4 linked regions of the Homo sapiens genome follow. The protein of the gene in region 1 interacts with the protein of each later gene in a pairwise test. Each region holds a gene or a part of one and is shown in the gene's direction. Other genes may lie near its edges. The genes, in order: PIAS1, PPT1, CCT5 and PEX7.

Region 1 (7,379 bases):
GAAAGAGTTTTCCAAGCCAGAGAAGTAAAGGAAGGACTCATATTTCTTTGATTAACCAGCTATATTGCTTATAAAGCTCTTTATATACTTTTCTCCTCAGTATTTTATTTTTTGCTTAATGGTTTTGCCACCTGCAAAGAACCCTTAGAGAATTGGCTGGGGTTATCATTGTGAGTGGTGGTGAGTTAGGGAAGGCAGCATAAGCATAGCTTTTGTGTATTTGGTATGAGGTGAAGGAATTAGTTGGAGAAATAGAGAGCAAATGGTAAGCTTACATGTGTCTTTTTATCCTAATACTCCCTGTCAGTGGTGATGCAATCTTTTAGGATTCTGCTAATAGCTGTGTGATCTTGGGTAAGTGATTTCTTCTCTTTGGATTCCATTTTCCACCACTTTAAAATGGGAGGATTGGTATAGATGGTCATTTCCTATTAGTAGGTGGGGAAAAAGGAGAAAGGGGGACTAAATAAGTTTGCGAACATAGGTAAACAAAGTTAAATAGATTACTGCAGCCTCATGCATTATGGCATATGAATTGGGTTGCTGGACTTCTAGCTTGGCCTTGCAAGTTAAGTGAGAGTCAGTAATATGAGTCCAGCTCTGTCTTTTTCCTAATGGTTTAGTGGAAAGAGCATGGGCTTTAGAATCAGACATATCTGGGTTTGAATCCTGACTACTCCTTAGTAGCTTTATGGCTTTATAAGTTATCTAACCTTTCTGAACTTGTCTCCTCATGTATAAATCAGGCAGGATAATACCTTGCGGAGTTGTAAAGATAATGACATTCCATGTGAAAATATCAAATAGAATATCTGATATATAATTGGTCAAAAAAGGTGTAACTTAAGTCTACAAATTCCAGAGTTAGTACAGAATGTAAGTAACACTTGATAATAGCTATTGATATCCTGCCTACATCTGGTGTTTGAGATGGACTGTTTGTTGTTTCATATATACTTATAATTCTTCCCCAAGAAAACAAAATATTCTTGAGAGCACATCATTACGTTTTGCCATCTACATAGCACTCGACATTCTCCTGGAGACTCAGTAAGTGCTTGATAAATACCTGACAGTTTCATCAAAACAGTGGAATAAAGTGAGGTGTGGTTTTCCCTGGTGTATACTTTATCCTATATTTCTTATAACCAAGGGTAGAAGTCAATGAATTTATGAATATTAATTTTAAATTTCTTTGGTTACTTAACGTTAAATGATTAAATTTGAAGTTTGAAATAATAGGATTATAAGTGAGCTGGCCTTTATTTGCTTAAGTAAACCATAAGAAGGGGGTTATAATAAAGTGTCATTTAATAGTGTAAATTATATTATTGGAATACTAATGTTTTACATTTTGTTTTTTCTCTAAGCAAATGGTTATGAGCCTTAGAGTTTCTGAACTCCAAGTACTGTTGGGCTACGCCGGGAGAAACAAGCACGGACGCAAACACGAACTTCTCACAAAAGCCCTGCATTTGCTAAAGGCTGGCTGTAGTCCTGCTGTGCAAATGAAAATTAAGGAACTCTATAGGCGGCGGTTCCCACAGAAAATCATGACGCCTGCAGACTTGTCCATCCCCAACGTACATTCAAGTCCTATGCCAGCAACTTTGTCTCCATCTACCATTCCACAACTCACTTACGATGGTCACCCTGCATCATCGCCATTACTCCCTGTTTCTCTTCTGGGACCTAAACATGAACTGGAACTCCCACATCTTACATCAGCTCTTCACCCAGTCCATCCGGATATAAAACTTCAAAAATTACCATTTTATGATTTACTGGATGAACTGATAAAACCCACCAGTCTAGGTAAGATTATTGTATGATAGTATTTGGTTACTTTTGCAGGATGAATTTTCGTTTTAGGCTTTTACTTTGACCCAGTTTATTATTCATAATGAAATTTTCATTTGATAGTAACAGCTGGATAATAATGAAGATCTTTCAAATTTAGATAAAATCAAATATATAAAAGCTGTCTTTCAGGAAAAAAGGTAGTATAGTGATGGTTACTGACAAAGTAAATATTAAAAAGTTTCAAGAATATAAACTTCCAAAGAGTAGTATTTTAGAAGGTTGATTAATATTTTATAATATCTCATAAATTAAATTAAAACCAAATGAATCACTACAAGTCTCTGATTAGTTCTTAATTTTCAGGGGTTGATGATCTCTAAAACAAATCACTGACTAGTTTTGATTATTTAAATGAGTGAATGGTTTTAATGATCATAAAAGGAGACTTGAGCTTTGATGTATGCTAGTTAAATTTCAGCTGATTTTTTTCAAGTGGAGAAGTGCATGCTTTACAGGCATGCACATGCACATGCACACTCATGATTACGGTTATATAATATAAGTGCTTGAAATTTATTTTACTGTGTTGTTCCATCATTTGATTTGTAGTCTAGCATATAGAATTCAATATATTAATCAACTTGTAATTTTAATTGCTATAATGCTACCTTATTTATTTAACGTAGAATAAAACTCAACTGTTGTGACCTCTGATGCCTTTGGTATAATATATTTAAAATATCAGACTTCTAAATGCTGGTTTGTTGGCATACTACGGCTGGCAAGCTAAGTCCAGTCTGTGGCCTGTTTTTATGTGGTTCTGAGCTAAGAAATCTGAAAAATATTCCCAAAGAGTTATTAACAAAAAAGGAAAGAAACAAAAACAAAGAATGTGTAACGGAGACCATGTGTGCCTGTAAAGCACAAAATATTTACCCGTATAGTAAAAGCTTGTGAATCCCTGTTACAGATCATTGAACATTTCAGTTTGGGGGACTGGCAAGTGTTGAGAACATTTTTTGCGAATTTTTGAGAACATTTTGAAAATGTTTACTGAAATTCTATCTTTGAAATATGAAGTGTTTGTTTTTAATTATATTTAGCAGAAATTATCTGAATACACGAAGATTATAGGAGTCATTTTCAAACAACGTGAGTTTTGTATCACATTATTTTATTTTTTAAGTGGCCATAATAAGAAAACATTTTTTGAGAATCTACTGTATGCTTATAAAACTGACACATGCTCATTGTAAAAAATGGAATTGCCAAAGTTCCTTCCTTGTTAGCTGTTTAGTGTGTATGCATATATAGTATAAGCAAATTGTTTCTTGTTTTTTACAGAAGGAATCATATACATAGTATTGTATAACTTCCCTTTTTTCCCCTTAATAATATATCATATGCATCTTTTCTTGTCTGTCTGATTATGTGTGTGTATATATATATATATATATATATATCCCATTTTAAATTAAAGGCCATATCTGTATCTATCCATATCTCTGTATATGGTCTGTGTACATGTATGTATGTGTACATATGTGTTATGTATTGATCAGTTGATGAAAACGTTGTGACCAGGGGCTTGCAGGAACCTAACCCTATACTTCCCCTGGTAGCAGTGATTATATATTCGCAAATTCAGTGTTTGTGGTGATTTTATGAACATAAATGTCACAAATAGCAATAATTGACTATATTTGAAGTATGATTTGAATGCCAGTTTTCATGAATAAATCTGCTGTTTGTGGTATGTATTCACAGAAAGTCACCAAATGAATAGGTGGTATAGAATTGCTTAGTGATATGTAAATAGATTTTCAGTATCTCATCGTTATAGAATTAAAAACAAACCAATTTAATATGCATAAAAAGATCTCACCACAAAGTAATTTGTGGAAGTTTATTGGCTCAATAAATATTTGTTGAAGGGCAATGCTTATTGAATGTGAAAAATATTTATTGAAAAAAGATTTTATGTAATTAGTCTTCAGGGTGTAGGATGAGTATATTTTAAGGCTCTGTTTTTATAAATTCTTTAACATTATTAAGACTTTTTCTGTACTTCATTAAATGAAGTGGCTACATTTGTCACATAACTTAGTTTCCTAAATGATTATTTTTGCCGGTAGTTCATTTGTTTTAAATCTAAGAAAACCACGTTTTCTGGAAAATTAAATAGCTTCCAGCATTCTCTTCATTTCTAAACGTACATACATTTAAAATCAAGTTTTTGAGAACATAGTTTCGAACACCAGCTGGCTAGTTGATCACAACTATCACTGAGTCCAGAATGGGACAGGCACATTTACTTTTTCATTTTTTCCCTTCCATTGTGGCCTTAAGCACTAGATTTAAACAGATTTTAAGATGTTCAAATGTAAACTGAATGTTTTTATGCATGGTTTTGTATTTCTAACTAAAATGGAAGACAGTAGTTCTGATAATTCCCATTTTATTAGGTAATTCTCATTCATTCTTACGATCATTTTGTTATTTCTTTAAAACAATTTAAAATAATTTTAAGGCCTTTATTTTGGAGCCATAATTAAAGTATTCTTTTCATTGTCCATAATTAACTGTAAGAATTGAGAGGTGAAGTAAAAGGTGGTTGTAAAGTAAGATGTTTAATTTATTGTTTACTTTGGCCTCTCATTATCTCAATTCTGTTTGTTTCTATGAGGCTTATTTCAAATGCTTTTTTTCTTTAACCTTTTTCATTTATCTTTCTAGGCTGTCCTCCTTTCATCTGTACATTTCTTCCCCAGCCAGAATCAATTTCACTTTCCCTGCATGCTCTCATAACATTTATTTTTTATTTTTATTTTTTTGAGACAGAGCCCCATTCTGTAGCCCAGGCTGGAGTGCAGTGGCACAATCTAGGCTCACTGCAACCTCCGCCCCACTGGGTTCAAGTGATTTTCATGCTTCATCCTCCCAAGTGGCTGAGACTTACAGGCACGTGCCACCATGCCCGACTAATTTTGTATTTTTAGTAGAGATAGGGTTTCACCATGTTGGCCAGGGTGGTCTTGAGCTCCTGACCTCAGTTGATCCGCCCACCTCGGCCTCCCAAAGTGCTGGGATTACAGGTGTGAGCCACTGCACCCGGCCTCATAACATTTATTTTTTAAATTTTATTTTATTTTATTATTTGAGACAGGGTCTTGCTCTGTTGCCCAGGCTGGAGTGCACTGGCACAATCTCAGCTCACTGCAACCTCTGTCTTTCCGGCTGAAGCAGTTCTGCCACCTCAGCCTCCCCAGTAGCTCAGACTACAGACACGTGCCACCATGACTGGCTAATTTTAGTATTTTTAGTAGAGTCAGGGTCTCATCATGTCAGCCAGGCTGGTCTCGAACTCCTGGACTCAAGTGATCTTCCCACCTTGGCCTCCCAAAGTGCTAGGATTACAGGCGTCAGCCACCACACCCAACTTAAATTGTATTTAATAATAATAATAATTATTATTATTTTTTGAGACAGGGTTTCGCTCTGTCATCCAGGCTGGAATGTGGCGGCGAGATCTTGGTTTGCTGTGGCCTTAACCTCCCTGGCTCATGCAATTTTCCCAACTCAGCCTCCCAAGTAGTTGAGACCACAGGCATGCACCACCACACCTGGCTGATTTTTGTTTTTATGTTTTGTAGAGTTGAGGTCTCATTATGTTGCCCAGGCTGTCCTAACATTTAATTTACCCTTTATTAAATGTTTTTGTTTTGTTCCTCAAAATGATAAGGCTTCTGAGGCATTTATCTATAAATCCCTATAATAGCTAGATATGAACCTGTTACATGGTAGTTCAGTAAACATTTATTAGCTCTCCAACTCGTTTTAATGCAGTAGATGGAATCTTTTATTTCATTTTAATTCAGTGGATTTTAACCATTTTACCTTGCAAACACAACTGAGCCATACCACACTCTGTAATTACAAACAGTGGCTATGATAGGGATGGGAAATAGAGTAGGGAAGAATGGTATTCTTCCTCTTATTGCCCTATCCTGTCATCTCTGAGGTTAATTGATGTCTTTGAAATTTAATATACTCCATTTAAAAAAAATTTTCCCTAATTACAAAAATGTTATGTTTAATGTAGAATCCATAGAAATTATAATTACTTGCTTACTTTACAGATAAACTTTTAAAATACTTCTGTGGTATTCTTTTTGTTAGTCATTTACGGGTGTGTGTGTGTGTGTGTGTGTGTGTGTGTGTGTGTATTTCTGGTTTCATTTTGAAGGAGAGGAGAACCTCACTAGCTCACGTAACCTGGCAGCCGCATGTATTATTGATCCATATAAATAATGGAAGAAAATTTTAATCTTGATAGGATGTTGAGCACATGTGTTAAGGGGTACTTTGTTTGAAATACCTTATTGCTTAGTGTGCCAATATTGGTGTTGATGAGGTGTGAAATTTACATAATTATGAAAATAAAAGGAAAAATAATTTTGGATTAAAATATCTTGTCCATTCAGGGACAAGATAATTATTTGATATTTCCTCTCAATCCTTTAATATTGTTTTGTTTAGAATAATACCTGTATCATTCAAAATAGTTTATAATATTGTTTATAGTTATTGTTTAAATTGGCTTTGTTAGAACATAATGGCAAAAACACAGAATACTTTCATGGTAAATAAAATAATAGTTCTTTAGGATACAGTATTTGATTTGATTCAGACTTAAGTATAAACAAATCTATTAATAGATTTATATTTGTTACTAGTTTAGCTATTTATATCTTCCTTGACTCAGGTAAATTTTCAAATAGAAAATACATTTTTAATATAGTGCTTTTAAATATTTTTAATATTTTTAATTATTTCAAAGGCCAACATGTATAGAACAGAGAGCTTTGCATTCATTTGGACTACAGATACTCCTCTGGTTATGTCCCAATAAATCCATCATAAATTGAAAATATCCAAAGTCAGAAATGCACTTAATACACTTAACCTACCAAACATGATAGGTTAGCTTAACCTACCTTAAATGTGTCTAAAACACTTACATTAGCTGACATAACATCTAACACAAGTCCTGTTTTATAATTAAGTATTGAATAGCTCATGTAATTTATTGAATATCGTACTGAAGTGAAAAACAGAATGGTTTTGTTACCAACAGAATGGTTGTGTAGGTACTCGAAGTAATTTCTACTGAATACCTATTGTTTTCTTACCACCATGAAGTTGGAAAATTGTTAAGTCGAGCCATCTGTAGTCATATAAAAGTATGGTGACTCATCTTGTTTGCTTTATATGAGATTGAAGTCAAATTTTACCTTCTCAGGGGATGTCTTTTCAAGTTTTTAAATATCTCAGGCAATATATCTGAATAAGTTCACATCATATGTCTTTATTGATTAGAGATTTCTCATTGATTGGTATGAGGCATAATAATTATTGACTATGAGTGTTACTTATTTTTTTTCTTTTTTTTTCCGAGATGGTCTCGCTGTATTGCCCAGGCTGGAGTGCAGTGGCACATTCTTGGCTCACTGCAACCTCCGCTTCCTGGCTCAAGCGATCCTCCCACCTCGCCTCCTGAGTAGCTGGGACGACAG
Region 2 (7,730 bases), on another chromosome or scaffold:
TCCATACTTCCCATTTCAAGTTTTTCTCCCCAGTAGCCATTTTCAATTTTCCAGAGATGGGAGGGGAAAGAGAAGGAAAGCGTTTACTTTTCTTCTCTCTTGTAATGTATGTGGATATGTTTGTGTTAATTGTCAGGATTTTGTGGATCTAATTGTATGAGTTTTGATGGAATGAAGGCAGAACTGGAAGCCTTGACATGCTCCAGCCCAGAATCTTCTATTTATTTCCTTGACCACCACTTACTGACATTTAAGATACTGACGTTTTTTTGCCGTGGATACAATTTTAACTTTTTAAACTTTCCTAGATATTGGTTGAAACAGAGTCTGTGAGATAGCTTTACTCCATTTTCTTAATCTAGAAGTCTAATAATTTTTAATGTGTGTATATTTTCCATTTTTATTATAAAAATTGTATATCCTTGCTGTAAAATTTCAAACCAAACACAAGTATATAAAGTAAAAAGTGAAAGTTCCTTGTAATACTGCCCTCAAGAATATTACTTTTAACGGTCTCCAGATCTTTTTAAATATTTATTTTCTTTCTTTTTTCTTTCTTTCTTTTTTTTTTTTTTAAGATGGGGTCTCGCTCTGTCGCCCAGGCTGGAGTGCAGTGGCTCGATCTTGGCTCACTGCAAGCTCCGCCTCCCGGGCTCACACCATTCTCCTGCCTCAGCCTCCCGAGTAGCTGGGACTACAGGTGCCTGCCACCACGCCCGGCTAATTTTTTGTATTTTTTAGTAGAGACGGGGTTTCACCGTGTTAGCCAGGATGGTCTCGATCTCCTGACCTCGTGATCCACCCGCCTCAGCCTCCCAAAGTGCTGGGATTACAGGCGTGAGCCACCGCACCCAGCCTCTTTTTTCTTGGCAATGCTTTGACCTTTCAGTGATAATGTACAAATATATAAATACACAGATGTCTTCTTTAAAAAAAGAACAGCTTTATTGAAATATATTCCACATGCCATAAAAGTCACCCATTTTATGTGTACAAACCAATGATTTTTAGTAAATTTATAGAGTTGTACAACCATCATATATGTATGTACATAAATACATAGTTATTTTCTTATGCCCTGTTTAACTTACTCTCCCAGTTCTAAAATGTACTTACCTACTTACCTATGCCCACAGCATGCCCACATGGCTAGAGGCTGCTTTTCAGAACTCTTGGGTAGTTCTGTTCCTGTCAATTGAGCTACTTGCTTACTAAATGCCTTTGGGCTTATTTTATTTATTTATTAATATATCGGTGATATTTGCTATCATAATTTAGTTAAATTTTTGAAAACATGAAATATGAGCATAAAGAGAAAAGAGATGTTTCTGTGAAAACTAAGTTGAATGCATTGGAAAAGCTTGTTAAAGGCAAGTTGTTAAAAAAAATTGTTAAAGTAACTCTGGGTCGGAAATCTGAGAGTGGAAAGTCTTCCATCTAGAATAATTTCACATCCAAACACTGTGGCTCACACCTGTAATCCCAGCACTTTGAGAGGCTGAGGCGGGAGGATCCCTTGAGCCCAGGAGTTCCAGGCTGCAGTAAGCTATGATTGTGTCACTGCAGTCCAACTTGGGGAATAGAGCAAGACCCTGTCGCAAAAAAAAAAAAAAAAAAAAAAAGTCATCATAGCACTATTCATAATAGCAAAGACATGGAATTAACCTAAGTATCCATCAACAGTAGACTGGATAAAGAAAATGTGGTAGGTATACACCATAGCATACTACACAGCCAAAAAAGGAATGAGATAATGTCCTTTGCAGCAACATAGATGGAACTGCTTAGGTCATTATCCTAAGCAAACTAATGCAGGAAAACAAAACCAAATACCACATGTTCTCACTTATAAGTGGGAGCTAAACATTAAGTACAGATGGACACAAAGAAGGGAACAACAGACACTGGGGCCTACATGAGGGTGGAAATGAAAAGTTACCTATTGGGTACTATGTTCATTATGGCAGTGACAAAATAAAACGTACACCCAACCTCCTTGACATACAACTTACCTATATAGCAAACTTGCATATGTGACCCTGAATCAAAAATAAAAAACAAAAAGAATGTTGGTCTGGCACAATGGCTCACAGCTGTGATCCTAGAACTTTGGGAGGCTGAGGGGGGCGGATTGCCTGAGCTCAGGAGTTCGAGACCAGCCTGGGCAACATGGCGAAACCCTGTCTCTACAAAAAACACAAAAAATTAGCGGGGCATGTTGGTGGTGTGTCTGTAATCCCAGCTACTCGGGAGGCAGAGGCACGAGAATCGCTTGAACCCGGGAGGTGGAGGTTACAGTGAGCCAAGATCACGCCACTGCACTCCAGTCTGGGGGACAGAACAAGACCCTGTCTCAAAAAAAAAAAAAAATTGCATTCAGATTGCTTCACAAGTGTCTTTCAGTTATTGCTCCAGTTTAAAGAAACCTTTAAAGAAATTATAAATAGTTCATTAAAGGCAGGAAACTTCATTGAGCGGGCTATATTCACAGAAAAATCCTGAAACTACTTCAATTTGTAAGTCTTAAGTTAAAATAAAATGCTTATACAATAAGCTTATTTTTCTTAAAACAAAACTGTATACTGTACTGTATAATGCTTTATGATTCTGCATTTTTTTTTCTTTGAGACAGAGTTTCACTCTTGTTGCCCAGGCTGGAGTGCAGTAGCTCAATCTTGGCTCACTGCACCCTCTGCCTCCTGGGTTCAAGTGATTCTCCTGTCTCAGCCTCCTGAGTAGCTGGGATTACAGGCACCCACCACCATGCCCGGCTAATTTTTTGTATTTTTAGTAGAGATGGGGTTTCATCATGTTGGCCAGGCTGGTCTCAAACTCCCAACCTCAGGTGATCCACCTGCCTCAGCCTCCCAAAGTGCGCCCAGTGGATTCTGCATTTTAATCGACTTTTCAACTAACAACTTACCTCTAGTCCCAATGGCATGGAATAGAAGAGATTACAGACCGTGGGTTTGTAATCGACTTTTCTTTTACAACATATTAAGGGCATTTTTCATGTCACTTTATGTAAATTTACCTCATTTTTCTTTTTTGAGAGAGACAGGGTCTCACTGTTGCCCAGGGCAACAGCGAGATCATAGCTCAGTGCAATGGCGAGATCATAGCTCAATGCAGCCTTGAACTCCTGGGCTCAAGTGATCCTCCCACCTTAGCCTCCCCAGTAGCTAGGATTACAGGCACATACCACCACCCCTGGCTAATTAAAAAAAAATTTTTTTTTTGTAGAGATGGGGTCTTGCTATGCTGCCTGGGCTGTACTCTCTTTTTATTTATTTTTTATTCTTATTTTTTGAGACAGAGTTTTGCTCTTGTTGCCCAGGCTGGAGTACAATGGTATGATCTCAGCTTACCGCAACCTCTGCCTCCCGGGTTCAAGAGATTCTCCTGCCTCAGCCTCCTGAGTAGCTGGGATTACAAGTATGCGCCACCACACCCGGCTAATTTTGTAATTTTAGTAGAGACGGGATTTCTCCATGTTGGTCAGGCTGGTCTCGAACTCGCTACCTTAGATGATCTGCCCACCTCAGCCTCCCAAAGTGCTGGGATTACAGGAGTGAGCCACCGCGCCCGGCCCTATACTCATTTTTTATAAAACTGGCCTCATATTATTCCATTGTATAGTGGATACACTCTAATTTCTTTATAAATTATTTAAACTATTTTTTGATGTTTTGTTGAAAAAAAACTTGAGCAGGGAACTGATATTATGAAGGTGGATTGAGGGATGAATGTGGCAATAGAGCATAAAATGAATTAAAGAGGAGAGAATGGAAAAGGAAATGGTTGATGAGAGACCCTTGAAATAATCCAGCTGAGATTAGGCCAGTTAGTGGCCATGGGTTTCCCCCTCACTCTTATGCATCCAACATATGCTTTCGTCCGTCTTGAAGTCCCGACATTTCTAGAAAACACAGTTGTCTTTCTCCTCTCTACCTTAGCTCATCTCAGTCCTTCTGAATTTCATCTTTGCTTGTTGAAATCCTACCTCTCCTTCAATATCCAGAACAAACCCCACACCCTGCCATGATTGGTCCTGGCTGGAAACCGTCCCTCCTTCTTTCTTCCTTCCTCTGTGCATGTTTCTTGCAAAGGCAGTACAGGGCAGTGGTGAAGAGCAACGACTTTGGAACCACCAATTTGCTATCTCTGTGACCTTGGGCACCTTACTCAGTGCCAATTCGCAGTGCCTCAGTGTCCTCACCTGTCAGGGGGAGAAGTGCATACAGCATTGTTATGAAGAGTGAATTAGTTAAAGGTTGTAAGAATAGTGCCTGATAGCATCTGATCAGCACTGAATATATGTTAGCAATTATTTTGATTCACCGCAGAGGGCGGTCTACGAGAGCGCAGAGCCCCACTCGGCCAGCGGGGTCTGGCGGGGGACCTGTCGCGCTGAAAGCTCCAGGGTAGGGCCGACGCCCATCAGGCTGGGCATCCGTTCGGGATGCGCAGGTTGCGATCTGCAACCGGCGGCGCCACGCCCAGGCGGGCGGAGCGCGGTTCCCGGAGTCTCGCGCCCGCGGTCATGTGACACAGCGAAGATGGCGTCGCCCGGCTGCCTGTGGCTCTTGGCTGTGGCTCTCCTGCCATGGACCTGCGCTTCTCGGGCGCTGCAGCATCTGGACCCGCCGGCGCCGCTGCCGTTGGTGATCTGGCATGGGATGGGTGAGTGAGTGAGAAATTTAAAAGGGTTTGGCGATTCTCTCTCTTCCTAGCCTGGGTTCGCATCTGCAAAATGCGGGTGTAGAGGGCGAGGACGTGGTCCCACAGCACGCGGCTGCCTCGACATTTTAGGATTTGAAGGATCTGCATTGGAAAGAGAGAAGGGGAAGGAGCCGTCCCCTTCACTGGAAAGAGAGAAGGGGAAGGAAAGAGAGAGCCGCGCACGGCGTTGAAGTTTTACATGCTGTCCTTGATTAATCCTTACAGTAGTGGCGTCAGGATGCAGCATCTCTCACTTGGTCAGGCTAGGTGAGCTGCGGCTGGCTATATGACTGGCGCATCTACCCTTTTATTTATTCCTTCACACATTGAACAGAGATTTGTTAGGCACCTACAGTTCATTTACAAATTGAGTAACCCTTATCTGAAATGCTTGGGACTGGGAAGCATTTCGGATTTTTTTTTTTTTAATATTTGCATATATACAAGAGATCTGGGGGGTGGGACCCAAGTGTAAACAGGAAATTTATTTATTTTTCATATACACCTTATACACATAGCTGGAAGGTAATTTTATGCAATATTTTAAATAATTTTGTGCAACCCATCACATGAGGTCAGGTGTGGAATTTTCCACTTGTGGCATCATGTCTGCGCTGAAAAACTTTCAGATTTTGGGTTTCCCATTTTCAGATTAGGATGCTCAACCTATATTCATTTAACACAGTTATTGAGCACCTACTAGGTGCTGAGGATACAGTAGGGAACTAAACAGACTAAATTCTTTGTTCTTTTGGAACCTACTCTCCAGTAGGAGAAGCAGATTATAAAGAAATTAACAAGTAAAACATAACATATCAAATGGTGATATGTGCAACAGAGAAAAATATAGTAGGGTGTAGGATAAAAACTGGAGGTGGGGGCTTGCACTTTTAATAAAGCAAAGTTGGGAAAGAATTCATTGAAAAAGTGACATCTGAGTACAAAACTGAGGTAGATGAGGACAGTTGCCATTTGGCTGTCTGGTAGAAGGAACAGTAAATGGGAAAGCCCTGATGTGGAAGTATGTCTGGTGTGTTCAAGGGACAGCATTCAGATCAGCGTGGCTGGAAATGAGTAAGCAAGGGGAAGAAGTTAGGAGTTTAGTTTGGAAGGGAGGGGCAGGTACAGAAGTTATTGGGCCTAGTAAGACTAATGCAGGGACTTTGGCTAGAGTGTCATGGGGAACTTTTTGAGCAGATGAGTGACATGATCTGACACATTTTTAAAGAATCACTTTAGTTGCTGTATTAAGAATAGATCGTAGGGCGTCATGGATGGTCACAGGGAGACAGGTTAGGAAACTATTGCAATAATTTAAACAAGAGATGATGACTTGGAACTGTAGAGTAACAGTAGAGGTGTTGAGAAGTGGTCAAAGTTTGGATAGATTTTGAAGGTGGATTGCTAACAGATCAGACTTGGAATAAGAGAGAAAGAAAGGAGCCAAAGATGACTCCACAGGTTTTGGCCTGAACAATTGGAAGGGTGAAGTTTTCATTTTACCAAGATGGGGAAGCCTGTAGGACAAGCTGACTTAGGGTGGGGGAAAGATCAAGAGTCTGCTTTTGGGCTTACTAAACTTGAGATCCTCATGAGACACCCAGGAGATGTTGTAGAGGCATTTGGAGTGTGGAGTCTAGGACAGAGATACGGGTTGGAGATTTAAGTAGGGAGTCTTCGGCATACAGCTAGTAGTTAAAGGCTAGGTGAGACCACCTAGGAAATGAGCGTACACAGAGGACTAAGCCCTGAGGCACTCCATTCCATTTGGAGGTGGAGGAAATGAGGAGAAACTAGCAAAGGAGGCTGTAACCAAATAGCCGGTGAAGTGGAGGGGTCAGGAAAGCGCAGTGTCCTTGAAGCCAAGTGAAGAAAATGTTTCAGGAAGAAGGGCATGATCAACTGCATCAAATGTTGATAGGTCATGATCAACTGTATCAAATGTTAATGGGTCAAGGAAGATAAAGGCTGACAACTGATTATTGGATTTAGCAATATAAAGATGATTAATCTTGACAAAAGCAGTTTTGGGAGAGTCGTGATAGTGAGATCTTTATTGGGATGGGTTACAGAAAAATATTCAGAGTAATTAGAGTCAGCAAATACAAACACTTGCAAGGTTCTCCAACAGGCCCTGGGGCTACTACAGTGGGGTCAAAAGAGGACACAGGGTAGGAGCTTTGTGTTTTCCCAGAGCTCACAGTCAGTTACAGGGGAGGCAGAGGCAGTTAAGTAACCTACAATTACAGCTCAGTGTGGAGAACGTTGTTTTCAGAGAAATAAAAGGAATAGACAATTCTCTAGGCAGTAGCCTTTTCTTGTTCTAAAATTGGTGCTTAAGCTTTCTCGCAGGTTGAAAATGGAATAAGTAAGTTCAAAATGGGAAATGATCTCAGTCCACTTCTACTCAGTAGCCAGTTTGCTTCCTGTTCCTAGTTCTAGTTCCCTGAAATAGAAGAAACAAGTCTGGGGCTAGGACAAGATGAAGAGGCTCCTGAAGTGCAAATTTAAGGAGGCACTCACTCTCAAATTCAGGGTCAACACTTACATAAACCTGAGAATGAGTGCCTCCTTAAATTTTGTGCCCTAGAGCGGGGGTCCCAAACTCCCTGGGTCTGTGACCTGTTAGGAACTAGCCACACAGCAGGAGGTGAGTGAGCCTGCAGCCTTACCACCATGAGCTCTACCTCCTGTCAGATCAGCAGTGGCATTAGATTCTCAAAGAGCTCAAATGCTGTTGTGAACTGCGCATGTGAGGGATCTGGATTGGGTGCTCCTTATGAGAATCTAGCAAATGCCTGATGATCTGAGGTGGAACAGTTTTGAAAAATTGTCTTCCACAAACCTGGTCCCTGGTGCCAAAAAGGTTGAAGACCGCTGTCCTAGATGCTTAATTTGCCTCACCCTAGTCCTGGCCCTGAAGAGAAAACTTTGCATCTGTTCACCCCAAATATCCCCTGTGATAGGGGAAGGGAATGTGTACCTCTGCTTATTTTTCATTTGTAAAT
Region 3 (7,379 bases), on another chromosome or scaffold:
AATGAGCAGGGCGTCATGGCGCGTGCCTGTAATCCCAGCTACTGGGGGGCTGAGGCAGGAGGATCGCTTAAACCCGGGAGGCGGAGGTTGCAGTGAGCTGAGATCATGCCACTGCACTCCAGCCTTTTTGAGACACAGCAAGACTGTCTCAAAAAAAAAAAGGCCAGTCAGTAACTTTGATCTATAAATATAATTATTGGGATTTCAGGTGGGTGGAGGAAGATTTTTAAAGCAAGAGCAGTTTTTCTTTTTATTTTGTAATGGGGTCTCGCCATGTTTCCCAGGCTGATCTCAAACTCCTGGCCTCAAGCAATCCTCCTGCCTCAGCCTCCCAAGTAGGGGGGGTTGCAGGCTCTAGTACTGCATCCAGCTCAAAAGATTACAATTCTGCAGTAAATCATAGTGTGACAGTAAGGTGTTGTATGTTTACAGTTGGACTGTTTCTCATGAGTACAGGCCCCTCCTTGTCTGCAGATGGGGAACCCGCAGATGTACAAGCCTAGATGCAAGGGACTTGAGCATCTGTGAATTTGGGTATCCTCGGGGGCTCCTGGAACCTGTTCCCCATGGATGCTCAGGGAGAACTGTGGCTCCTGGAACCAATTCCCCATGGATGCTCAGGGAGGACTGTGTTGCACAGTGGTCTTGCAACGCCTGTAAGGTCATAGTCATACTGTCCCTCTTCTCAGCTGTAAATGGGCTGGTAAAAGAATCTGTCTCATTAATGTGTTGAAAATTCAGTGAGATAACACAAAGCACTTGGTTCTCTTTCTTTACGTAAGAATTGCTTATTAAAACTGGAGTCGTAAATGTTATAATACTTAAACCTGTCTGTTGCCCCTTAAATGTAGAAGCTTCTAGACAATAGAAACTAAGTCATAAGTGATTTTTGTAGTCATCAGATGTGTGCTTTTAACCATTGAAATTATATGTAACAGTGTTTGCTTTTTCTGTTTGTTTCATTAGTCTCATATAATGGCAGCAAAGGCTGTAGCAAATACAATGAGAACATCACTTGGACCAAATGGTAAGAGTCCACCATTCCGTGTTTTTTAGCAAAAGATTTAAATTATAAAACTGTCAATATAAACCTCTCTACAGAAAGGTGGAGTATTGAGGGGAGGCATCTTACTTCCTTAACACAGCCAAAATTTTTTAGTGTATTTCAGGTTTCTTAAACATGGTTATAATCGTGTGCAATATTAGGTCGGACCTTTTTTTTTTTTTTTTTAGCATGTAACATCATTTCATTAGCATTTTCCAAATCATAGTTGTCTTTTGAGATTAACATTATACTTAATGATGCTCCATAATGTTTTGCCAATTATGTTAGCCAATCTAAAAATGCCTTCATGCAGCTACTATTTTGTGTATGTTGCATTATTTGTATATAATAAATTGCACAGATAAGAGCTGGGTCAGGAGGTCTTGTTTTATAGTTTGTGATATTGGTTGCCAGTTTTTTGCGCAAAGCCTACTAAACGTTGTTTTTTAGGGCTTGATAAGATGATGGTGGATAAGGATGGAGATGTGACTGTAACTAATGATGGGGCCACCATCTTAAGCATGATGGATGTTGATCATCAGATTGCCAAGCTGATGGTGGAACTGTCCAAGTCTCAGGATGATGAAATTGGAGATGGAACCACAGGAGTGGTTGGTAAGAAAAGACAAAACATCCTTTCTCATTTAAGAGACGTCATTTAAGACCACAGGGCTAACATGCCTGCTGAGATTGTTGTCTCTGAATCAGAGCATGAGGAGACAGACAAATCCAAGTTGAAAACATGCTACAAAACAAATGTCGGACTTTCAAAACTGACAGTGTTACAAAAGAACAGAAAGAGGGCTGGGGATTGTTAGGCATGGAGAAATGTGTAATGATTGATTGGACACTGATTTTGCTTGTCTTTTAAGCTATAAAGGATGTTTGGGAAACGTGGAAGAATTTGATTTTGGATCATGTACTGCAATGCTGAGTTTCCTGAGTGATCTGTGACCATTATATTGCAGATGTGTAGGAGAATGCCCTTCTTCTCAGCTGTATACCTAAATACTTAGGAGTGACATGTCATGGTTTCTGTAACTAATTCTCAAATAGTTGAACAGAAACAGTATGTACATGTAGAGAAAATGTGGCAAAATGTTAATAAGTAAACTGGTATTCGTTTTAGTATTGTACCTTTTTTTTCTGAAGATTTGAAATCTTTAAAAAGTTGGGGAGATTGAAGACAAAATATCAGTAAGGTTACCTTTTCTGCAGATGAAATTTGAATTCATTCAACAAATATTTATTGGATACTATTGTATGCCAAGCACTGTTCTCGGTGCGCTTGGAGAGCTGTAGATTTAAACAAAATTCATCTTTGCGACCCTAAAATGAGGAGAAAGGAGGATGGGGGTGGGGGGAATAAATAATAAACACGTTTTAGTCTCATCACCAGGCTGAATTTCACTGAGTAGACCCTGGCCCAGGAAACATAATAGCTTTTTACCTCTTAGAAAAATGTTCTTTTTACATTATATTCTTTAGTTACGTTCTTCACATCACTGAGGGTTGAATGTTCATCTGTAAGGGGACACATGTCCTATTCGACCTTCGCTAGAACTAAAACGAGGCTTTCTTTTAAAAATAGAGGGCTTCTGCCTCTAAGATGACTTGCAGCTTAATTCTAGAAGCTGCTTCTTTCCATGATAGCATCTAACTTGTGCTGATTATACTAAAAGTGAAGTTTTGTTGTTTGCCTGAACTGATTGTCTGCTGGCTTATTTGCAGTCCTGGCTGGTGCCTTGTTAGAAGAAGCGGAGCAATTGCTAGACCGAGGCATTCACCCAATCAGAATAGCCGATGGCTATGAGCAGGCTGCTCGTGTTGCTATTGAACACCTGGACAAGATCAGCGATAGCGTCCTTGTTGACATAAAGGACACCGAACCCCTGATTCAGACAGCAAAAACCACGCTGGGCTCCAAAGTGTACGTTTCAGTAGATGATATGATTACCCATTTGTAGAGGAGGCAGTTTGTTTGCCATTTCTTAAAGGCAACACAAAATGACCACTGGTGGATTTGTATCGATTTGATTATTTGTTTTGATTACTTGGTTTTGCTTTGTTTTTAATGTAGATGTAGACAGATGCATTTTGTATTTAAGTTGAGAACTGAATTTCTAAGTTCAGGTATAAATCCCCTTGACAATATTTGCAAAATATAGTTATTTTAATTTAGCAGAATAGGTTGTGTTAAAAATCAGCTAAGGCTGGATGCAGTGGCTCATACTTGTAATCTCAGCACTTTAGGAGGCCAAAGCAGTAGCTTGCTTGAGCTCAGGAATTGAAGACCAGCCAGGGCAATGTAGTGGGACCCCATCGCTACAAAACAAAAAACTAGCCAGGCATGGTAGCACACACTTCAGCAACTCCAGAGGCTGAGGTGAGAGGTCGAGGCTGCAGCAAGCCATGATCATGCCACTGCACTCCAGCTTGAGCAACAGAGCGAGACCCTGTCTCAAAAAAAAAAAAAAGTCAACTAGAAAGGGTCCTACCTGGAGGATATGTGAATTTTCTTAACACTTCTTTCTATAATTTCTTTGCTGGGGAGCCATTGGGGGTGGGTTCCACTTTTTATTCAGCAAATTGCCGATCCAAAATTATAATTTAGTAAAGAGAGTCTTGAAAGCGACTTGTCTCTGGTGTTTTCAGCGTTCGTGTAATGTCCGTTTGCCAGGCTTACTGCCAGGTCTTATGGGCACTAAGACACAGCTCTTCTCCCAGGAGACTCTAAGCAACCTCAGCCAAGGGGTGCGCTGATTATGTACAATGCCAAAGACTTAAGGTCTGTTGCCGTAATATAACATAAAAATCCAGTGTAAGCTGCTTTATTACATTATATTAAATCAGTGAGAGATGTTTTCAATTGTGTGCTTGTGGTGGTTTTAGCAAAAAGGAATGAGGGATCTTCTAAACTCAGAGTAGTCAGGGAAAATGCAGGAAAAGTGTCTGCTTCTGTTGCCTTTTCCCCTGAGCAAAGCCTATGTTAGAGCAGAAGCCTTCAGCAATGCCTGCTGTCCTCCTCTAACCACAGATCTCAGCAGAGACTAGCTCCCTAGGCAAGAGTGAGTACCCTAGGGGTAGCCTCTTGTCACAAGTATAACACTTATTTTCTCATGAAAGGAGGACATCATCATTACTTGAAGTGTACAAATCAGTTTTCTTGTTGCTTTATAAGTTGGCCTTGTTCTGTTTGCAAGTATTAAGTCATCTACTTAAGATACAACATGTTTACTTTCATGGTTCTCTTTTATAGATAACCTGTGATTTCAGACATTATTTCAAGTGCTAGGTTTCCCTAGTTGTTTTTCTTGGCTCAAAAATTAATTTATTGAACTGTCTATTCACATGTTTCAAAGCTTTCAAAAAGGTAACACCCTCCATCTATAATGGATGTTGTGGTGAATTCTTGGAAAGTTTAAATGCCCTGTCCAGTCCTTTCAGTTCCTGGTTAGTGCTACACTTCATTGAGATAAGAGTGACTCTTCCTGAGTGATTACTTACCTTTCCCATTCTGTTCTGAACTTGTAAAATAGTAACAGTATTCTGTAAAAGTGCTGCATTCTAAGAAGACCTTAATTCATGCCAGACTACAGTGGTTTCTTGAGTACATTCATAATGGAAGGAAATAGTAAATTTCAGAGTTAGCGAAAATAAAGATGTAATTTTTTCCTATCTAAGTATACAGTCCCCTTTAGGGCCCATGGATCACAGGTTAAGAATCTGCCCCAGACTGTTGAAAATGCAGGTTGAGATGGCATTCCCCTCTAGAAGACTCAAAACATCGTTTGATTTATATCTTTGAGTAACATTGTGTTATGTGGCCTGCTTTGGTTGCAGTAATTGTGAAACCAATGAAGTTTGTTTTGTGGTGTTTTCCTCAGGGTCAACAGTTGTCACCGACAGATGGCTGAGATTGCTGTGAATGCCGTCCTCACTGTAGCAGATATGGAGCGGAGAGACGTTGACTTTGAGCTTATCAAAGTAGAAGGCAAAGTGGGCGGCAGGCTGGAGGACACTAAACTGATTAAGGGCGTGATTGTGGACAAGGATTTCAGTCACCCACAGATGCCAAAAGTGAGCCATTGCATCTCACAGCTTCGCACTGTTGGTTAACTCTTAATTCCACCAATTAAAATGTCTTTATGTTCCCCCATAGAAAGTGGAAGATGCGAAGATTGCAATTCTCACATGTCCATTTGAACCACCCAAACCAAAAACAAAGCATAAGCTGGATGTGACCTCTGTCGAAGATTATAAAGCCCTTCAGAAATACGAAAAGGAGAAATTTGAAGAGATGATTCAACAAGTAAGTCTTACCAGAGTCCTCAGTGGAATTTAAACTCCCAAAGGGTACAGTTAGTTAGGTTTGGTTAGTAAATATGTGTAGTCTTTCTTCAGTTCTAAAACATACACAGGAAAAAACCAAATTGCATAGAAAGGCATAAACAGGGAAGAATTCTAATTTTGTCTTAAAATGGTAGCGTGTTCAGGCCAGGTGCAGTGGCCATGCCTATAATCCCAGCACTTTGGGAGGCTAAGGCAGGCAGATCGTGAGATCATCGAGACCATCTGACTAACACGGTGAAACGCCATTTCTACTAAAAACACAAAAAATTAGCCAGGCATGGTGGCAGGCACCTATAGTCCTAGCTACTCAGGAGGCTGAGACAGGAGAATCGCTTGAACCCAGGAGGCAGAGGTTGCAGTGAGCTGAGCTTGCACCACTACACTCCAGCCTGGGCGACAGAGCAAGACTCTGTCTCAAAAAAAATGGTAGTGTGTTCAGGGTCCTGAAAGAAGTGACCCTGTTACCTAAAGCCGTGCTTTCAATTGTACATATTATATTTGCCGTCCTGGACAAATTTAACTTAGCTTACCTTGCCTTTAAGATTTCTGACTATACCTTTTAGGCAAGAGTTAATGAGTAACTGGAGTTAAACCAGAATGCACTCATAGTAATCCCAGTTCTTTGCTCAGTTAAGTCTAGTTTGGGTTCATGAATACCTTAGCGTAGGTGTGCTTTCTCTCTGACATAGCAACTCCTCTTTGGGGGCTGCGTCCTTGGGAGTTGAAAACACCAGTACTCAAGAAGACAGGAACGTGGGTTGGTTAGGGTATTATTTATCATAGCAAACCAACTAGAGACTATTTTCATGTCTGTTCTTGGGAAAGTTGTTGAATGTACTCATTGATGATACGGTTCTTGGTGCCTACGACATACCAGGCTCTGTTGTAGGCACTAAAGGTACAGCAGGGAATGAAGCCAAGCTCGTGCTCTTGAGACACAGATAAGAGAAAGGTGGGTACAGCTCCATTACAGACACTGGTCAGAGAGGTGACCTGTAAGGAGAGGCCAACATAGGGTGAGAGCAGTGCCCCTGGGGGAGGAGCATTCCAGGCTGAGGACAGATGGGGATGCTCCTGAGCCAGGAACATTGTTGGCTTGTACAAGGAAGAGCCAGCCTCAGGGATTGAAGCATGCTGGCGGGAGCTTATAAATAAAAGGCCATCATCTGGGCCGGTGGGACAGTTTTCATGAGAATGGTGCCTCAGCTGTGCTGGGGGGCCACAGATAAATTGAGAGGCCAGGGATGTTACTGGATCGTGCTGGTGAGGCGCAGGTTGCTGAGAATGAGAAGGGAATGACGATGGGGCTAGATAGTAAAATGTTAAAGAATGAGAGGCAGGGACCCAAAGAGGAACACTGCAGGTGACTGAGGAGCAAGAAGGACCCTCTCCTGTTCTGAGCATGTGAGAGGGAAAGCAGCTGCCATCTGAGGAGGGTTGCAGGGGCAGGTTGGTTTTCCGGGGTTGTGACGGAGAGATTGTATAAGGAGGCTGCTGTTCTGGACTGAGTTCCAGAGGGTCAGGGAAGGAAGAGAGGGAGAGCCAGGCAGTAGCAGGTAGCCTGGGAGGCCTGATGGAGACAGGTAAGCCAGAGTTGTGGGGCACGGTGTGGCAGTCCCAGGTGAGCACCAGAGGTGGGGTGGGCAGCCTGATCGTTGCCCTCCTAATTGGGAAAAGTGACTTTGCCATTTGCAGGTCGGGGTGAGGGTGCTTCTTACTGGAAGCAGGGTTGCCTCTGTGAGTGCCCGAATTAGTTTATGGATCCACTGAGGATTGTCCACTCAGGTGAGACAGTCAAGTTGCAAGTGGTTCATAACATTGTTTGTTTAAAACATACTCAGGTGAAACTACTCTGTAGGTGTTTGTGACAGGACAGAGCTGTTAGCCATTTCCCCATGGTTGGGGAAGGGTGTTAGCTTTGTTGACGTTTCTGTGGGTTTTGCCTCACTGTAACAATAGGGTTCAGCAGAATTACTGCTTG
Region 4 (7,379 bases), on another chromosome or scaffold:
GTAGAAGACAGTGATATTGATAATCCTGACTCAGTGTAGTCCTAAACTAATATGTGTGCGTCTCAGTTTTTAAAAAAAGAGTTTAAAAAGTAAAAAAAAAAATTAAATAGAAAAAAGCTTATAAACTAAGGATATAAAGAAAGAAAATATTTTTGTATAGCTCTACAATGTGTTTATATTTTAAGTTTTGTTATTATGAAGAGTCAAAAAGTAAAAAAAGCCAGGCATGGTGGCAGGCGCCTGTAGTCCCAGCTACTCGGGAGGCTGAGGCAGGGGAATCGCTTGAACTGGGAGGCAGAGGCTGCAGTGAGCCAAGATCACGCCACTGCACTCCAGCCTGGCAACAGAGCAAGACTCCATCTCAAAACAACAACAACAACAACAACAAAAAACTTTAAAAAAAATTAGAAAGTTTATGAAGCAAAAAATTACAGTGAGCTAAGGTTAATTTATTATTGAAGAAAGGAAATAAAAAATAAATTTAGTGTACAGTAATGTTCTAGGCCTTTCCATTCACTCACTACTCATTCACTCACTGACTCACCCAGAGTAATTTCCAGTTTTGTAAGCTCCATTCATGGTAAGGACCCTACTACCATTTTTTATCTTCCATACTATATTTTTACTATACCTTTTCTATGTTTAGATACAGAAAGCCTTACAATTGTGTTACAGTAGCCTACAGTATTCAGTACAGTAACATGCTGGACAGGCATGTAGCCTAGGAGCAATAGGCTGTTTCATCTAGCCTGGGTGTGTACTAGGCTGTACCACCTAGGTTTGTGTAAGTACACTCTGTGATGTTCACGCAAAGATGAAATTGCCTAATGCCACATTTCTGAGAGCATATCCCCATCATTAAGTGATGCATGACTGTATTTATGTCCCTGAAGTGGTCTGTTGACCGTGACAAATAGGTAAAATGTATGCTTTGTTTTTTTCCCAGTTTTAAATTAATTAAAGTTAAAAGAACATTGTATTGGCAGAGTTCTTTAAATAAAAATAAGTAAAATAAGTTAAAATATAGTATATATACAATGATATTACTCAATCTAAACATTTCAATGCTGATGACTATAGTTTCAAACTCATAAATGAATGTTTCATATTGGAAAATTAATTATGGCCTGTATGTTAGATGTTTGGGAACTCTAAAGAAAGATGCTGATAGACATTTGAGAGTGATTTACAAAAATTATTTTCTAATAACTGAAACTTTTCTTCAAATTAGCTTAAACTAAAGCCCAACATAGTCAGACAATGTTAGGTTGGTGCAAGAGTAGTTGCAGTTTTTGCCATTACTTTCAATGGCAAAAACTGCAACTACTTTTGCGCCAACTTAAATCCATTGCTGTTCTGAGTTATGTGGGGTGGACTGAGTGTGGACCCAGCACTTGTCCTATTCAGCCAGGACCTCTGGGTTCACTTGGGGCTCTAGATAGCAGAATTTGTAAAGCCGGAATAGATAAGAGACTCACCACTATTTGATTACATTCTTGGATATGATTAGATATCGTATTAAGAATTTTGGTCCAAGAGAGTTGGAAACAATGATTAATTTAGATTTAGAGAACATGGAAAAATTTAATTCATAGCCTTTGCTTTTTCAGATGTGCCTAAATGAACAGACCTCTTGCCTTTTAATGCCTGGAAAAACCTCAGAGTATGTTGAAACCCTTTTTGTTTGTTTGTTTTTTAGAGATGAGGTCTCACTGTTGCCCAGGCTGGTCTCAAACTCCTGGGCTCAAGTGATCCACCGGCCTTGGCCTCCCAAAGTGCTGGGATTATAGGAGTGAACCACCGCACCCAGCCTTGAAAACCTTTTTTAAATTTTTATTTTTTTTTTAGAGACAGGGTCTCGCTGTGTCATCCAGGCTGAGGTACAGTGGGGTGATCATACCACACTGTAGCCTCTGACTCTTGGGCTCACACAATCCTCCTGCCTCACTCAGCCTCTCAAGTAGCTAAAATTACAGGTGTGTGTTACCACGCCTGGCTAATTTTTTGGGTAGACAGGGTCTTGCTTTATTGTCCATGCTGGTCTCAAGTTCCTGGCCTCAAGTGATCCTCCCACCTTTGCCTCCCAAGGTGCTGGAATTCCAGGGAAAACCTTTTGAAGAGAAAGCTGGGCTCATTTGTCAGATAAAATTTTTAATCCCCTATGTATTTACTGCCGCTTCTAAAGCTGAATTAGAAAATCCACAATGCTGTTTGGAACTATGCCTTTTCCAGCTGTCTGTAGTGTTCCATCGTGTACATAAAGCATATTGAGTTCTTTTTCTCACAAGTCATATTAGTTTTTTGCTATTAATGTCTATGTTGATTCCTGTCTATACTTGTTATACAACTTCTCAAAAATGACTCCTTGGTTCATATTAAATAGTTATCAGAAAGCAGATGTTGTTTCTAGTAGGAAAGCCTGCATACTGTTTAATTGCAAAGATGTCACAGTTTATGTTTCTCTGAATTGTTTTTAGAATTTGCTGGTGACCGGGGCGGTTGACTGTAGTTTGAGAGGCTGGGACTTAAGGAATGTACGACAACCAGTGTTTGAACTTCTTGGTCATACCTATGCTATTAGGAGGGTGAAAGTAAGTTTTCATCTTTTCTTTTATATGTAGAATAAAATTATATAAATATAATCAATGAAGTGTATATTAAAAAGTGTTCTGGGTTTAGGGATTGGAGTTACTAATTCTTTTTTATATGTGTTTTTGTTACCCAATTAATTAGTAGTGAAAGCTAAAATTAGGCAAAAATATTTGAATAATGATTGAATGAATTTGGGCAATGTAGACATTCAATACTTAAGGTTAAATAAAAATCTTTTTCTCATTCTTTCACCTCCAATCTGTTTTTCCTTTAATATATTTTTTTAACTATAGTAATTCACTTTTAGTATTATGTTCTTTATAAGTTTCTAATTAGCGAGAGTCTCTACTTTGTTGAAACAGATGTAAAGAGATGGTTAATTCTTTCTTTTTCCTAACATGATAACATACATGACTGTTCACAGATGTTTGGGATATAGAAAGTTTTCTACTCTGTGAACAGCAGAGGATGAGGTAAATTTTTAATGATGGTCTCAGTAAATTTATCTGGGTTATAAGATGACTTAGGTTGGTTTCCTGGCTTTTATATTTAGGCAGGTTCTGCTAAATGACTGTGGAAAACATCTTATTAAGTGACATCTCCCAATTTCATCCTTTTGTTTTTTTACGTTAAGGATAAAAAAGTACCTTATTGATTATTTTAATAAGGTAATTATGTTATTCCTACTATTTAAAAAATTCTAAATTTTTTTTTCTTTTTTTTTGAGATGGAGTCTTGCCCTGTCACCCAGACACGATCTCAGCTCACTGCAACCTCTGCCTTCTGGGTTCAAGCTGTTCTCCTGCCTCAGCCTACTGAGTAGCTGGGACTACAGGTGTGCACCACCATGCCCGGCTAATTTTTTTGTATTTTTAGTGGAGACAGGGTTTCACAGTGTTGGCCAGGCTGGTCTTGAACTCCTGACCTCAAGTGATCTGCCTGCCTTAGCCTTCCACAGTGCTGGGATTACAGGCTGAGTCACTGTGCCTGGCCAAAAATTCTAAATTTTTAGTTAAGTTAATATTTTAAGTTTCTCTGGCTGCAATGCAACATAGGAGACACAGTGCTCTGTTTTATTTTTTAATAAATTTGTTTAATTGGACAAGTTTTAGCAGTTGAAAAATATGCTCTATGTATATTTTAGAGTGATTATGAGAATGAAATAAGGTAATGTAGTGAAAGTACTTTGCAAACTAAGTGCTGGTCAAATGTAGTTATATATGTGTATTTAACTATTAAAGTGCGATAAGACAAACACTGAAGAAATGTAATTGCAAAGGTCAACTTATTAAGTACATTATTACTCATCTAGAAGACGTTACTTGTCTTTAAACTTGCTTTTTACCCTTGATATAATTTTCCATTAGCTGTAATATACAAATAACGTAAAAATAACTTAAGGGTGTTTTTATTTAACATTTAAATGTTTATTTTGATAACGTGATTATAGCAATCATATATTTGTAAAATTGGTAAATTATATAATTATATATTTGTACTCTTATATACTTAAATCCCTTATATTTGTAAGAATCATTTTTGTTTATTACTTTGTTTGCTTTTGCTTTTTTTGAGCCAGAGTCTCTCTCTGTCGCCGGGGCTGGAGTGCAGTGGCATGATCTCGGCTCACTGCAACCTCCACCTTCTGGGTTAAAGCAATTCACCTGCTTCAGCTTCCCCAGAAGCTGAGATTATAGGCATATGTGCCACCATGCCCATCTAACTTTTGTATTTTTAGTACAGGCGGGGTTTCACCATGTTGGCCAGGCTGGTCTCGAGCTCCTGACCTGAGGTGATCTGCCCTCCTGAGCCTCCCAAGGTGCTGGGATTACAGGTGTGAGCTGCTGCATCTGGCCTGTAAGAATCATTTTTGGATAGCCAATATGAAATTGTATTTAATTTTTCCAGAATAGCAACATTTTGGGAATATTTTATTCTAAATAAGTTCTAAAAAGCTTGAGGGATAATTTTCTTTGGAGAATGTAAAAATATTTTTCCTGAAGATGGATACTTATAAGGCCAGAAGATTTTTGCCTCAAATTATAGCATATATGCTTTGAAAAAGCATAATTTTAAGTGACAGCTCTGACTCAACTTAAATTTATTATAATGTTTATGGAATGATCATAGAAAGCAGTGTTATAATCACAGCTGACTTCAAAAAGGGTTTTTTTTTTCTTTTTTTTTTTGTAGTTTTCACCATTTCATGCTTCTGTGCTGGCCTCTTGCTCGTATGATTTTACTGTAAGGTACAGTGGTTTTTAATACATTTCATTGTGAAATACCAGGTAACATTTGCATCTTTGCAACTTTTATAAGAGATAATATGATTACTCTTACTAACATGAAAATAATCTGAGATGGGTACATTTAAATATTTACTAGGATTAATATTATATTTTTCCTGTTTTCGTGATCCAGTCACATATATGAGTAAATTTTTTCTCTTCAAATATTAGCCTGGCTATTCTGTTTAAAAGCCATCTTTTCTAATAGATGTTCCTATGGTAACACTTTCCTACACTATAGATGGCATAGCCAATATATTCTAAATTTAGATATAGAAATTTGGAAATTGCATTTCTTCAGGTCTAATTATATGAGTCGTAAGGCTAAGATTGCTTAGATGAAAAAACAATGAACATGAGTGTATGATTTTTTGTGAATGTAGATATATGAACATGTATGTGTATATATGTGCATGGATATCTAGATAAGAGTGTGTGTGGGTGTGGGTCTCTATTTATACTTCCAGTTACAGTTCCATACCACAGAGGATTTATTTTCCCTTTCCAAATTTGTAACTCTTGACTTCCATTTTATTCACAATATATTTTCTTATGTGTTAAACCCTGTAATGCTTAGAAAGTAGTTCAGAATTGCAAAGCCATACCTTTGAAAAAAACAATCTTACTAATTAGAGCTCAGCACTTGCTTAGAGTTTTTTTTGTCTTTAGTTTGAATACTATATTCAGAAGTTACTTAGGTTAATTCTCCTCTTCTCTGTTAGAGTGTGGTTATGTTATTCACTTGAAACATGGTTTGATTCCTTTGTTTCTGTTTGTATTCAATTTTAGGGTTTTCCTCCCATCCTTGTTGATTTTGTCTAGGCAAAACATTGACATGGTTTCAAAAGTCAAGATGTACATAAAGATATATTCAGAAAGGTTTCCAGGATTTTCACTAAAATATATCCTGGAAATCATTCTGTATCAAAGAGATCATTCTCATTCTGCATAATACACCATTGTGTGGATGTGCTATAGTTTATTTGGCTACCCTCCTATCTATGGACATTTAGCTTGTTTTCAATGTTTTGTAAATAAACAGTGCCACAGTGAATGATAGCTTTGTGTTACTAGAGAATTAATGTCTGGTATTCCTAGAAGTGGGATTGCTGAGTTAAAAGGTAAACATATGTAGTTTTGTTAGATATTACCAAATTCCCATCCATAAGGAATATGCCAATTTTGATACTCAGTAGCAATGTTTGAGAGTACCTGTTTCTCTGCCTTCTAAAGATCATTGATTCATTAAGGTTTTCCAGATGTATGATCTTATCACCTGCAAATAAAGGTGGTTCTACACCTTCATTTCCAATTCTGATGCCTCTAATTGATTTTTCTTAAAATTCCCTCCACAAATACCACTAATACAGTGCTAAATAGTTTATAGAGAATGTCTGATTCCTGATATGAGTACAAACGCCTTTAGTGTTTCTCTATTAAAAATAAGATTCTGACTTTAATGCAAATTATATATGTTTACTTGTTTGTCATACTAAGAAAGTATGCATGAATTCCTATTTTCTTGAGTTTTTTTAATTAGGAATGGGTCTTAAGTTTTGTTGAAGGCTTTTTTTCCCAGCATTTATGGAGATAATCATGATTTTTCTTCTTAGAGATATGGCTATGATGTATTATATTAATGGATTGAACCAACCTTGCATTCCTGGAGTAAGTCTCTCACGTTCTTTGTGTATCATTTTCTCACCATGGTGTTGAATTGTGTTTGCTAATATTTTATTTAAAGCTTTTGCGTCAATATTCAAAGGTGATATTAGTTGCAGTTTTCTTTCTTTTCTCGTTTTGTTTAATGTGTCTGTGTTTTACTTGCTTCATAAAAAGAATTAAGAAATTTTCCTTTGTTTCCAAAGCTCTGGAACAACTTGTACAGCATTGAGGCTATTTGGTCTTTGAATCCTTTGTAGGATTGCTCTGCAAAACTAGTGGAGCATGGTGCTTTTTGTGGAGTACTTTCTTGATAACTTCATTTCTTTCATGGAAGTGAGTCTGTTTAAACTTTGTATCTCTAACGGGATCAAGTTTGGAAATTGTCCCTTGCTTTTAGGTTTTCAAATTTATTCGTAGAGGTGTCTGTAAAGTGGGTGGACACAGTGGCTCATGCCTGTATTCCCAGCACTTTGGGAGGCCAAGGTGGGCAGATCACCTGAGGTTAAGGGTTCAAGACCAGCCTGGCCAACATGGTGAAACCCTGTCTCTACTAAAAATAGAAAAATTAGCCACGCATGATGGCAGGTGCCTGTAATCCCAGCTACTTGGGAGGCTGAGGTGGAATTGCTTGAACCCAGAAGGCAGAGATTGCAGTGAGCTAAAATCATACCACTGCACTCCAGCCTGGGTGACAGAGTGAGACTTTGCCTCAAAAAAAAAAAAAAAAAAAAGTCTATAAAGGAATGTTGTAGGATTTCTTCTCTTTCATTGGTTGTTTTACTCTTGTTATTTCTGATTTTGTATCTTTAATAAGTTCTTTGAATATCTAGTGGT

Evidence for each region.
Region 2: the proteins of PIAS1 (region 1) and PPT1 interact in binary tests that used the Homo sapiens proteins (3 or more experiments, as listed by UniProt).
Region 3: the proteins of PIAS1 (region 1) and CCT5 interact in binary tests that used the Homo sapiens proteins (3 or more experiments, as listed by UniProt).
Region 4: the proteins of PIAS1 (region 1) and PEX7 interact in binary tests that used the Homo sapiens proteins (3 or more experiments, as listed by UniProt).

What each region holds. Positions count from the first base shown.
Region 1 is NC_000015.10:68,084,936-68,092,314, forward strand, and holds part of PIAS1 (E3 SUMO-protein ligase PIAS1), read left to right. Parts: intron 1-1,370; coding exon 1,371-1,815; intron 1,816-2,909; exon of another isoform or gene 2,910-2,955; intron 2,956-7,379. UniProt on the Homo sapiens protein: Functions as an E3-type small ubiquitin-like modifier (SUMO) ligase, stabilizing the interaction between UBE2I and the substrate, and as a SUMO-tethering factor. Catalyzes sumoylation of various proteins, such as CEBPB, MRE11, MTA1, PTK2 and PML.
Region 2 is NC_000001.11:40,094,068-40,101,797, reverse strand, and holds the start of PPT1 (palmitoyl-protein thioesterase 1 isoform 1 precursor), read left to right. Parts: upstream 1-4,545; 5' UTR 4,546-4,559; coding exon 4,560-4,683; intron 4,684-7,730. UniProt on the Homo sapiens protein: Has thioesterase activity against fatty acid thioesters with 14 -18 carbons, including palmitoyl-CoA, S-palmitoyl-N-acetylcysteamine, and palmitoylated proteins. In contrast to PPT2, PPT1 can hydrolyze palmitoylated proteins and palmitoylcysteine.
Region 3 is NC_000005.10:10,253,179-10,260,557, forward strand, and holds part of CCT5 (T-complex protein 1 subunit epsilon), read left to right. Parts: intron 1-966; coding exon 967-1,027; intron 1,028-1,495; coding exon 1,496-1,660; intron 1,661-2,776; coding exon 2,777-2,975; intron 2,976-4,932; coding exon 4,933-5,125; intron 5,126-5,207; coding exon 5,208-5,357; intron 5,358-7,379. UniProt on the Homo sapiens protein: Component of the chaperonin-containing T-complex (TRiC), a molecular chaperone complex that assists the folding of actin, tubulin and other proteins upon ATP hydrolysis.
Region 4 is NC_000006.12:136,867,413-136,874,791, forward strand, and holds part of PEX7 (peroxisomal biogenesis factor 7), read left to right. Parts: intron 1-2,477; coding exon 2,478-2,591; intron 2,592-4,785; coding exon 4,786-4,841; intron 4,842-7,379. UniProt on the Homo sapiens protein: Receptor required for the peroxisomal import of proteins containing a C-terminal PTS2-type peroxisomal targeting signal. Specifically binds to cargo proteins containing a PTS2 peroxisomal targeting signal in the cytosol.